Linked DNA regions of Homo sapiens. The protein of the gene in region 1 interacts with the protein of each later gene in a biochemical or structural test. Each region holds a gene or a part of one and is shown on either strand. Other genes may lie near its edges. The genes, in order: FAT1, APBA3 and RAPGEF6.

Region 1 (3,652 bases):
GTTATAATTTGGGACAAATATTTGATTGATAGTTCACTTCTAGAAATTTCAGTAATTTTAAAAGACTGTGGTGTCTCTAAAACATGAATACGCCGGCATTTAGGTAACATGTATCTACAGAATCATTTTTAAGTCTAGTAACAAAAGCAGCAATTCCTTTAAACAAAAAAAGATCAACAACTTTTGTTACGTAGGCACTAGTAATAGCTTTCAACTTTAAATTCCATGTGCACTTCTTGGATATGCCAAAAAATATTTGTCAATGAAGGAGACTGCAATGAAGGAACTGTTGAAATTCTGCTTCTATAAGCTTCAATAATATTTAAAATGCTGAAGGTCATCAGTTTAACACTAAAACTTCACTAGACAAAATACAGGTATGTTTCTGATTTGCCCAGTGAAAACATGGTACTTCTTAGGAAAAGAAGTGTAGGCGTCATCAGTAACTATAACCATGAACACTGGAGTATCTAAGCCTCTTCTGCCTGATAGCAAATGGGGCCCAGAGCTATCCTCCCTCCTCCTGAACCTTGACAGCATCATGTCCTAGCATAAAGGATCCCCCGAACTCTATGATGACGTCTGTGTACTCGATGGCCTCTGTAAGCAGTTCTCGAGTGGGATCTCTAGACCGGCACCATCAGAGCTACCTGGGAACTGGTGAAAAATGCAAATTCTAAAGTCCCAACCCAGACCTGTTGGATCAGAAATGCTGGTGCTGAGAACCAGCAATTGGGCTTTTAACAGCCCTCCAGATGATCTGATTCACATTACAGTTTGAAAAGTACTAGCCTGTGTCTTCCCCATGTGATGAATTTCAGTGCACTAATAAAGGGCTATTTTAATTTAAAATAATTTGGGGAAGGTGCTCAATGTCCTTTCTTACAACTCTGAGCAGATAAAGCTTCACATTAAATAATTTTCACTAAACCAAATATGAAAATATTCTTTTACCATGCTCTACACCCTTTTCTTTGATCATACTCAGGGAAAAACCAAAAGTGAAGAGTCAGTTACAGGTTAATTATGAAAGCTTTACATTATTCAAGTCTTATTCCTGTACATACGAAGAAGAATTTTTGTTTCAAAAAAATTTTAGGTAAAATTACTTCTGAACTTTTTCTTGATTGCACCACCTACAGATAAGCTCTCCAGATCTCATGTAAATCACTATGAATGGTAAAAAGGAACAAAGACATAACATACATTGAGATATTTTTTGCAAAGCACTCATATTACGTATATACACACCTGCATAAAATAAAAGGACTCAACCCCCTCAAAACCACAAACTGTTTTTTCCTACCATTGCAATAGCAATGCGGCCGAGCTCTACGACACGGCTGCTGCAAGACACAGACACAAGCACGAGCACTTACAACTGTACCTTCTGTGCTCACCGTGTCAACCACAGCATTGACAAGGTGCATTACGGTCACTATGGAAGCTTGCAAAAAGGTACAAAAGCAGTCAATTAGGAACATCTTCAGTTAGTTAGAAAACAGTGCATGAAATAAAGTTTTGTATTATACCATTTCTACCTCAGATTCCAACCGATGAGTGCTTTAATACAACCACATAATGATGCGTGGTCTCCTCACTGTTAGCTGTGTGTCTCAGAGACTTTTTTAATCGAGCTATATATTTGTTATTATTAATCAAAGGAATAACGTAAACATATTTTATTGGAATTTAAACAAAAAAACTTTTAGCTTTAAATTTTTTCACAATTACAATTATGCATCATGCCAGGCCAAAACGATTCTTATTTTAACATCTTACAGGCAAGACTCGACATTCCAAGACTACAGTCTGTGGTTCGCCACTCTTCCGGCTGCTTAATCACTCACACATTGTCCCCCAAAAAAAAGAAATTGAAGGAGAAACATATGCAATCTAAAACAAGAATGTTTTTGTCCCTGTTCTGATTGCTTTCCCTGCAAATTTCTCGTCTGTTTGCAGATGGACTAATCGCTGGTGAGCTAATGTACGAGTATAGGAGGAGACTCTGTCCGTCTGTTTCCTGTGTAAATTCCCTTTTCATTTGTGTATCAGATTGTTTTAAAATAACTATGCCAAGGTAAATATGTACGCATGTGGTAGGCAGAAGGCTGGCCCTCAAATAGTCCACGTCCTAATCCCAGGAGCCTGTGAATATGTCACTATACATGGCAAAAGGGACTTTGTTGACGCGGTTCAGATAAGGAAATTGAGATGAGGGATTTCCCTGGATTACCTGGGTGGGCCCAGTGTAATCATAAGGGTAACTTTTCTGCACAGAGGCGTTCCCAGTTACGGCTGGGGGGAGCTCTGCTGACAGAAGGGTGGTCAATGAAACACTGTGTTGCTGTCTCTGAGATGGAAGAAACCAAGAGCCAAAGAATGTGGGCAGCCTCTAAAAACCAGGAAAGGAAGGAAAACAGGTTCTTCCCTCGAGCTGCAGAAGGCAATGCAGCCCTACTGATCGCATGACTTAAGCCCTGTGAGACACAGGGGTTGGGCTTCTAAGCTACAGAATGACAGCAACACAAGTCTACATTGTTTTAGGCCACAAAGTTTGTGGTAATCTGTAATGGCCCTGGAAAACCGGGAATACGACGCAGGAACAGACTCTCAGCAGACTTTCAGTTTACAACTGATAATTACATTATGGTAATGAGTAAAATAAAAACACTCCTGTATATATGTTTTTTCTCTGCATTGTACTATCTGGAAGCTAGTTTTCATAACTAATTTGACCATAACTTATTGAAAGCACTTGGGACTATTTTTTTTTTTGAGACAGAGTCTCGCTCTGTCGCCCAGGCTGGAGTGCAGTGGCGTGACCTCAGCTCACTGCAAGCTACAACTCCCGGGCTCAGGCCATTCTCCTGCCTCAGCCTCCCCAGTAGCTGGGAGTACAGGTGCCCACCACCACGCCCGGCTGATTTTTTTTATATTTTTAGTAGAGACGGGGTTTCACTGCCAGGACGGTCTCGATCTCCCAACCTTGTGATCCGCCCGCCTTCACCTCCCAAAGTGCTGGGATTACAGGCGTGAGCCACTGCGCCCGGCCACCTGGGACTATTATTAAGAAGACTGATGTTCCAACAACAAGAACTAGAAAGAAAATGCTGATAAAATTCTGAAATGTATTTATAAAGAGCATTTAGGGGCCAAGATATAAATTATTACATAAACTGGAAACAGGAACTTCTTAGAATTAAAATTGATAAAAGACATAATTCTATCTTGTTGGTTTAACAAGCAAAGCTATGTCCATACACCCTATTCCTAATCAACACAGGTATATTTTGATACCATATATACGGTATCAAAATATACCTGTGTTGATTAGGAATAGAGTGTGTATATATATATATACTTGAAAGTATATATATATATATATATATATACTTGAAATCAGAAATGATAGCACATACTTATAGCTATCTTTAGTTTGAAAAATGACTGCAATAGATAATGACTATATGGATTTATGGACTATATGATGTATTATGGACTATATTACTCTGGATTGAATAATTATTAGTGGGGTTACCTTTTCCCACCAATAAAATATTTGAAATGTATAACATATTAATATGTTTAATAATAAACGTATTACGTTTATACAATAAAAATTATCATTAAACTTACTAATTCTGAGATT
Region 2 (3,652 bases), on another chromosome or scaffold:
AGCTGCCTGACGCGATTGTGATTAAGATGTTCTGGAATCACGGAGCAGAGAAGTCTGATTCTAGAGTGATAATAAGATTCTAAAACTCCTGACAGAATTGCTATGAGACCTGTCAGAGAGTTCTGGAATCAAGGGTCAGAACCAGCTGGGGTTCTGGAGAGTATGGGAATTTTAGACAGGCAGCAGGGTCTGTCTCTGTTCTGAGTGGTTCTACAACCCGGGAACAGAGCTGCCTGCTATCCTGGGCTGACTGCAGACGGTTCTAGAACAGTGGGCAGAGCTGGCCAGTTCTAGATTGATGGAGGGAATTCCAGAACCAAGAAGCAGGGGTCCACTGTGGTTCTAGAATGTTGTGGAGGTTTCGAAATTGGAGTGGGGGGTGGAGCGTCGTGGCTCACGCCTGTCATCCCAGTACTTTAGGAGGCCAAGGCGGGTGGATCACTTGAGGTCGGGAGTTTGAGACCAGCCTGGCCAACGTGGCGAAACCCCGTCTCTACTAAAAATACAAAAACTAGCCAGGCGTGGTGGTGGGCGCCTGTAATCCCAGCTACTCATGAGACTGAGGCAGGAGAATCGTTTGAACCCAGGAAGCGGAGGTTGCAGTGAGCTGAGATCACACCACCGAGCTCCAGCCTGGGCGACAGAGCGAGACCGTGTCTCAAAAAAGCAGGAGTGGGACTGTCTGGTTCCGGCCTGATCATGGAATTCTGGGGACACGGGGTGAAGGTATCTGTGGGTGCTAGATCTGGCTTTGAATCCAGCCATGGCCTGGACTCACTGGTTTCCCACCTGCGAGTCCTTGAGGGATGGACAGAAGGTTCTAGACCTGTGAGGGCCAGGCTGCTTGGATGGTTCTAGAACAGTGGGCTGTGCTTCCTGGCTGGAGAGTGCTAAGCCACCAGCTAGAACACTGTGTCTCCCGGCCATCTCGGAGAGCGTAGCCCTGGGGCAGAGCCTGTGGGAGTGGGCCCCTGGGGGCCGACCCTCTTCGCTGTCGCCCTCAGTGCCTGGTCCCTGTGACCATGAAGACCTCCTGGACGGTGTCATATTTGGGGCCAGGTACCTGGGGTCCACCCAGCTGGTGTCGGAACGGAACCCGCCCACCAGCACGCGCATGGCCCAGGCCCGGGAGGCCATGGACCGCGTCAAGGTGAGGGGGCGGCCGGGGCCGGGCGGGCAGGCGGGTGGGCTGCAGGCTGGGTCTGTGGGGGCCTCCACCTCCCACGCCGCCACCCACAGGCCCCCGATGGGGAGACCCAGCCCATGACGGAGGTGGACCTGTTCGTCTCCACCAAGAGGATCAAGGTCTTGACAGCGGACTCCCAGGTACGGGGCAGGGACCCGCCCCAGGGATGCGGGTGGGGTGATCGAGCCTGGCACGGCCCCCCAACCCACCCAGGCTGCCTCTCCCGCCCCAGGAGGCCATGATGGACCACGCCCTGCATACCATCTCCTACACAGCCGACATCGGCTGCGTGCTGGTGCTGATGGCGCGGCGGCGGCTGGCACGGAGGCCGGCACCCCAGGACCACGGCCGCCGCCTCTACAAGATGCTCTGCCACGTATTCTACGCGGAGGACGTGAGCAGCCAGGGCGCGGGGCCACCCTCCTGAGGCCCTCCTCACTGCAACTGTCGCCTCCCTCAGTGGGCCGTGCATTTAACCTCCCTCCCATAAGCTTATTTTTAAATTCTTTTTTTGGGACAAGGTCTCCTTCTGTCACCCAGGCTGGAGTGCAGTGGCGCAATCATAGTTCACTGCAGCCTCAACCTTCCAGGCTCAAGCGATCCTCCCACTTCAGCCTCTCTAGTAGCTGGGACCACCGGGGTATCACCATGCCTGGCTAATTTTTGTATTTTTTATAGAGACACGGTCTCGCTCTGTTGCCCAGGTGAACACGGTCTCAAACTCCTGGGCTCAAGCGATCCACCCACCTCAGCCTCCCAAAGTGCTGCAATTACAGGCGTGAGCCACCGCGTCCAGCCTCCTATAAGACTCCAAGACTCTCGGCCGACTCCCCGAAACCTTGCCCGCTCCTGGGCTGTCCCTGCCACCCATGAGGCCCCAGGCCCCCTGGCTGGGTCTTTGATAGCTTTTCCCACAGCCCATGCGCAGGGAGCTGCCTCCCTCATCGTCCCCCCAGCCCAGGGCTGCCCCTCCCCTTCCTTCTCCCCGTAGATTCCCCAAGATGCGGCTGTCTCTCCACCTCCCCCAAAGCCCCAGGGCAGAAGGCTGTGTCCTGGGACTCTCACCCCAGGTGGGGACAGGAGGGCTCAGCTCTGAGGACCCTGGGGACTTTGGGGACCTGGAGGAGGTGGGTGGGACACCCCAGGGACGCGCCACTCCTCCCCGCAGGCCCAGCTCATCGCCCAGGCCATTGGCCAGGCCTTCGCCGCCGCCTACAGCCAGTTCCTACGGGAAAGCGGTATTGACCCCAGCCAGGTGGGCGTGCACCCGAGCCCAGGCGCCTGCCACCTCCATAATGGGGACCTGGACCACTTCTCCAACAGTGACAACTGCCGGGAGGTGAGTGAGGTGCTGGGCAGCCCCCACCTGGTGCCCCCCACACCCGTGCACCTGCACCGGGCCCTGCTGAGCAGCCTCCGCGCCCCCTGTGTGTCCCAGGTGCACCTCGAGAAGCGGCGAGGGGAGGGCCTGGGCGTGGCCCTGGTGGAGTCGGGCTGGGGCTCCCTGCTGCCCACAGCCGTCATCGCCAACCTGCTGCACGGGGGGCCTGCTGAGCGCTCGGGGGCCCTCAGCATCGGGGACCGCCTGACCGCCATCAACGGGACCAGCCTGGTGGGGCTGCCCCTGGCTGCGTGCCAGGCCGCTGTCCGCGTGAGTTTCCTGGTGTGGCAGGGCCCCCACACTCCCAGGAAGGGGAGCTGAGTCCCAGAGAGGTCTCCTCCCTGGCCAGGTCTCTCCAGCCCAGCCAGGAGGGACAAAGTCGAACTTTTAAGTCCTGCCCACTGGTGTGCCCTTGGGGAAACTGAGGCCTGGAGAAGGGAGGCCACTTGTCCAGGGCACCTCCCTAGTACCAGAGCCAGGATGGAAATGCGGGTGGCCCAGCTCCAGGGCTGGGCCACTCTCTCTCTCTAACAAGAAACAGCTAATTTCTGGGGGGGTTTGTTTGTTTGAGACAAGGTCTCACTCTTGCCCAGGCTGGAGTGCAGCGGTGCACCTGGCTCATTGCAGCCTTGACCTTCTGGGCTCAAGCAAATCTCCTTCCTCAGCCTCCCGAGTAGCTGGGACCACAGGTGTGCACCACCACGCCCAGTTTATTGTTTTATTTTTTGTAGAGATGGAGTCTCACTATGTTGGTTGGCCAGGCTGGTCTTGAGCTCCTGGCCTCAAGTGATCCACCTGCCTCGGCCTCCCACAGTGCTGGGATTACAGGTGTGAGCCACTGCACCTGGCCATGTTTTTGAGTCTCAACCTTTGTTGCTCAGATGGGGAAACTGAGGCCCAGAGATAGGGAGGGACCTGCCCCCGTCAGAGGAATGAGGCCACAGTCCGTGCAGCCTCTTACAGATGTTTGCAGCCTGCCTGGAGAGCCCGGCTGTCGGCTTGGCTTTTGGCCATAAGGAAGCGATATGGCTCGGGTCAGACAGCTTCGACCCCATGCCCACCGGGCCCGAGTCTGTTCTCTATCA
Region 3 (3,652 bases), on another chromosome or scaffold:
GACACATTGCTACTATATGGGAGAGGCAGGATTCAAATACAGGTGCAGCTGATTCTAAAGACCACTCTGTTAATCTCTATTCAATACTCCTAGAGTGTTCAGTTCAGTTGTAGACACTGGTTAATTTAATAAAGGCACATCCTATTACCATGACAGGGTCATGAATAAAGAGTCCCTATAAAGATTCTACTTTTTAATCTTAATCTACATGAGGAGTAGAAACAAATCATTATGAATTCTGTGGGGGATGTGTATAGGTAGGATTAGTTCAAGTGGAATTATGCTGCGATTTATAAGCACATCATGGCCTTAAAAATGGAGCTAACTACAACTCCTCTCCCTTTTAAAATTAAACTTGTTTTAAGAAGAATCCCTTTGTTGATCTACAGTGTGCTAAATAAAGATCAGAAAATAAATTACCTACAATTAACTTTTCATAATAAGTGGGAAGAAGGGAGTGGGAGAGCTCACGTAATTATCTACACTTCCTGGGCTTATGAATGTCAAAACATTTTTATTATTCTAACAGCCTAACTTGCTTGAGGAACACCACATCCAGTGAACCTCATGTAGTGCCTGGCAAACAGGAAGAGCTTACCAAATGGTTGCCATTATTATCAATGTTGTTGTTTCAAAATAGCAACTTTAGGTCAAAGTACTGATACCATACTGTGATTTTTCAGAGTCAAATCATAGTGAGGCAGGTACTTAAAAAAGCACAGTACAGAAGTCTAATGATAAAGACCAGCCACTGGGCACATATCCAAAGATGATATAATCACTCAAGGCGGGGGGTTGGAGATGAAGGGAGAGAAAGAAAAATTAGAAGGCAATCACCCACTTTCATTTACAAAAAAGAAGTAAAAGAAAGATGGAAGAAACAAAAATAGAAAAAGCCAATACCACCAAAATGGAAAATACATTAAATCTAACAACACTTCAATAAAGGCATATTAATTGAACATTTCTTTTCATAGGCATTGAATACCTAAGTAGAAAATCAGCTGCATGTAATGACAAAACCATACAGACATTTGTACCTATTTGTACCAACTTACCTTATTATTGCAAACATGGAATTGAAGTTCTTACATTCTCGACAATGAAGTGCAATTTTAATAAAATGCTTAATAATCTTCATTCGTTTGAGCTGATTTGCTTCAGTTAAAATTTCTGAGGCAACCCAGAATGTCTCTTGGTTTACAATGTCCTCAAACCTCTTCAAATGAGTATTTCCTGTTTTGGAATTTAACTTAAAAAGGTCATCGATGTACTCAGTCGGTTCAATATTACGAAACAAATCAAAGTCCCTCATTGACAGCTGGGTGGCCACCTCAATGGTACTGAGCTGCAGCATGGATAGCTGGCTTTCCTTAACTAGTTCTTGAGCATCTTCATCTGAACATAAGGTTTCTGTTTCCATGTTATTTTTTAAGTAATACCTAAATGGAAAAATTTTTTTAAATAAATGTATTCATAAATATGATTAAATAAGAGCACTTTTCCTTTTTGTCGTTGTAAAATATCATTTTACTGTTAATAACTTTTAGCCAAAAATATTAATTTACAGATAAAATGAAAAGTTAACATTTTAAATGAAAAGATTTTTGAGAAGTCTGTCTCTTATTCTACCAACTGGCATCTATTAAAGAGTAAAAATAATGTTGTTATGTCATGAACTTAATTATTTTATGAAACTATCTGTCAGATACTATTTTAGGTACTGGCCTTGCCCTCGTAAAGCTTTTATCTTACTGTTTTATCTGACAGAGGATTGGTACTATGTAAATATTTGTTTATGAATAGCATGAATTCTAATTAAGGCAAAATAAATTCCTGAATCAAGACGGTTAAAAATCTCTATTCAGAAGTTACTCCACTCACTTCCTTTTTAAATAAATTTCCAAGTGAAGCAAGAGGAATGAAATCTACAGAGGAGGGGAAACACTTCCACTAATGGTTTCTCCCTTGTTAAATACAAAACCTCATTCCAGCAAGTGGCACTTATCAGTTACCACACATTAAGACCTATATTTTGCTTTCTTCTCTTAAATCAACAATTCTACAGCACTTAAAAGTAAGAGACAGGAAACATCTTGTGCAGGGATGTTACTAAGGAAACGAGGTAATGTATCACCTGCTTTTACTTCGTTCTTTTCTAATAATCCAACTTGATTTAAGCCTAAGTTTGTATCCATCTATCCATCTATTTTTTACTGTCAAGAAACTCTTTTTTCTGCTTTTAGACTGTTCATATGCCTAAGACAATGCCATAAATAATAGTGCTGAAACTCATTATGCTATATATAATAATGTTTAACATTATAAGGTATGGTATACTTAGTAACTCATTTAATCCTTACAACATTCCCATGAGGTATATTCTACTATTACTATCCTCATTTTATGGGTGAGGAAATTCAGGTAGAGAAGCTACATATGACTTGCTCAAGGTCACATAGCCAGAGCTGGGATTTGAATGTGGGCAATCTGAATCCAGGGTCTATGCTCTTAACCACTATGTACAGCCAGCAAAACAGAGTTAACTCATTCTCATTTCACAGCAACCATGGCATGCAGTCACTGTAAGCTTTCTAGGGATCTTGTTCTACATATGAAACTGGGTTACCAAAAAGATTATTCTCAGAGTGGTTGAGTGTGGTAGCTCACACTCGTAATGCCAGCACTTTGGGAGGCTGAGGCAGGCAGATCACTTGAGGTAAGGAGTTTGAGACCAGCCTGGCCAACACGGTGAAACCTCGTCTCTACTAAAAATACAAAAATTCGCCAGGCATGGTGGCATGTGCCTGTAGTCCCAGCTACTCAGAAGGCTGAGGCAGGAGAACCGCTTGAACCTGGGAGGTGGAGGTTGCAGTGAGCTGAGATCGCGCCACTGCACTCCAGCCTGGGCGACAGAGGGAGACTCCATCTCAAAAAAAAAAAAAAAAACCAGAGTAAGGAACAAATGTACTACAGAAATAATCTAGTTTATTAAATAATTTTCAGAACACATTTTAAAATTTTTAAAATTTTCCTGCATATTCATTAAAGGAAAACTACTTAGAAAAAGAACTGTGAAAACCATGGCTTCTTTTGCCAAAGTACATACTGGCCATATTAAAAACAAATTTATAAATTAGTAGATACAGTCATTCAGATATATATGAAGATTTGTATCATTCAGCTTCCTCTATAAAAAAACAGGAACTAGATTATATCAGTGGTTCTAAGAGTTTATTTTAGCAGGAGTGACAAGATATTTTATCAAGCGTCTTCTGGAGTGAATTTAGGAGCACTAAAACATGATAATGTTTCTACTTACAATAGCTGTTTTAACAGGAAATCTTCAAAAGCACATCTACAAATAAGCACATCCACTAATAAGCTTATTCACCTTCCATTGAGTTGAATTCTATCAGCTAATTTGGAGAACTGATCTGGAAGTCTTCTCTGTTTTATGACACCCTCAGGAGTAACAGAAACTTCACAGAGAGAATATGTGTCGGATGCACCGGTCAAACCAAATTCATGAACAGCATGAAAAACTACTTCTTTAGCTGTGGTGTCTTTACTGATGATAATGTAGCAACTTTGCTGATCCACTTTGAAAACTCTTATAACTTGATCAGGGATATCTACATAAATAGAAAGA

What was found.
Region 2: the proteins of FAT1 (region 1) and APBA3 interact in a test that uses a peptide from one of them, tested with the Homo sapiens proteins (one large-scale study listed by IntAct).
Region 3: the proteins of FAT1 (region 1) and RAPGEF6 interact in a test that uses a peptide from one of them, tested with the Homo sapiens proteins (one large-scale study listed by IntAct).

The regions. Positions count from the first base shown.
Region 1 is NC_000004.12:186,591,306-186,594,957, forward strand, and holds part of FAT1 (protocadherin Fat 1 isoform 1 precursor), read right to left. Parts: intron 1-3,652.
Region 2 is NC_000019.10:3,751,693-3,755,344, reverse strand, and holds part of APBA3 (amyloid-beta A4 precursor protein-binding family A member 3), read left to right. Parts: intron 1-1,004; coding exon 1,005-1,150; intron 1,151-1,239; coding exon 1,240-1,326; intron 1,327-1,418; coding exon 1,419-1,580; intron 1,581-2,354; coding exon 2,355-2,525; intron 2,526-2,624; coding exon 2,625-2,837; intron 2,838-3,652. UniProt on the Homo sapiens protein: May modulate processing of the amyloid-beta precursor protein (APP) and hence formation of APP-beta. May enhance the activity of HIF1A in macrophages by inhibiting the activity of HIF1AN.
Region 3 is NC_000005.10:131,460,647-131,464,298, forward strand, and holds part of RAPGEF6 (rap guanine nucleotide exchange factor 6), read right to left. Parts: intron 3,636-3,652; coding exon 3,395-3,635; coding exon of another isoform or gene 3,391-3,394; exon of another isoform or gene 2,967-3,390; intron 1,443-2,966; coding exon 1,059-1,442; intron 1-1,058. UniProt on the Homo sapiens protein: Guanine nucleotide exchange factor (GEF) for Rap1A, Rap2A and M-Ras GTPases. Does not interact with cAMP.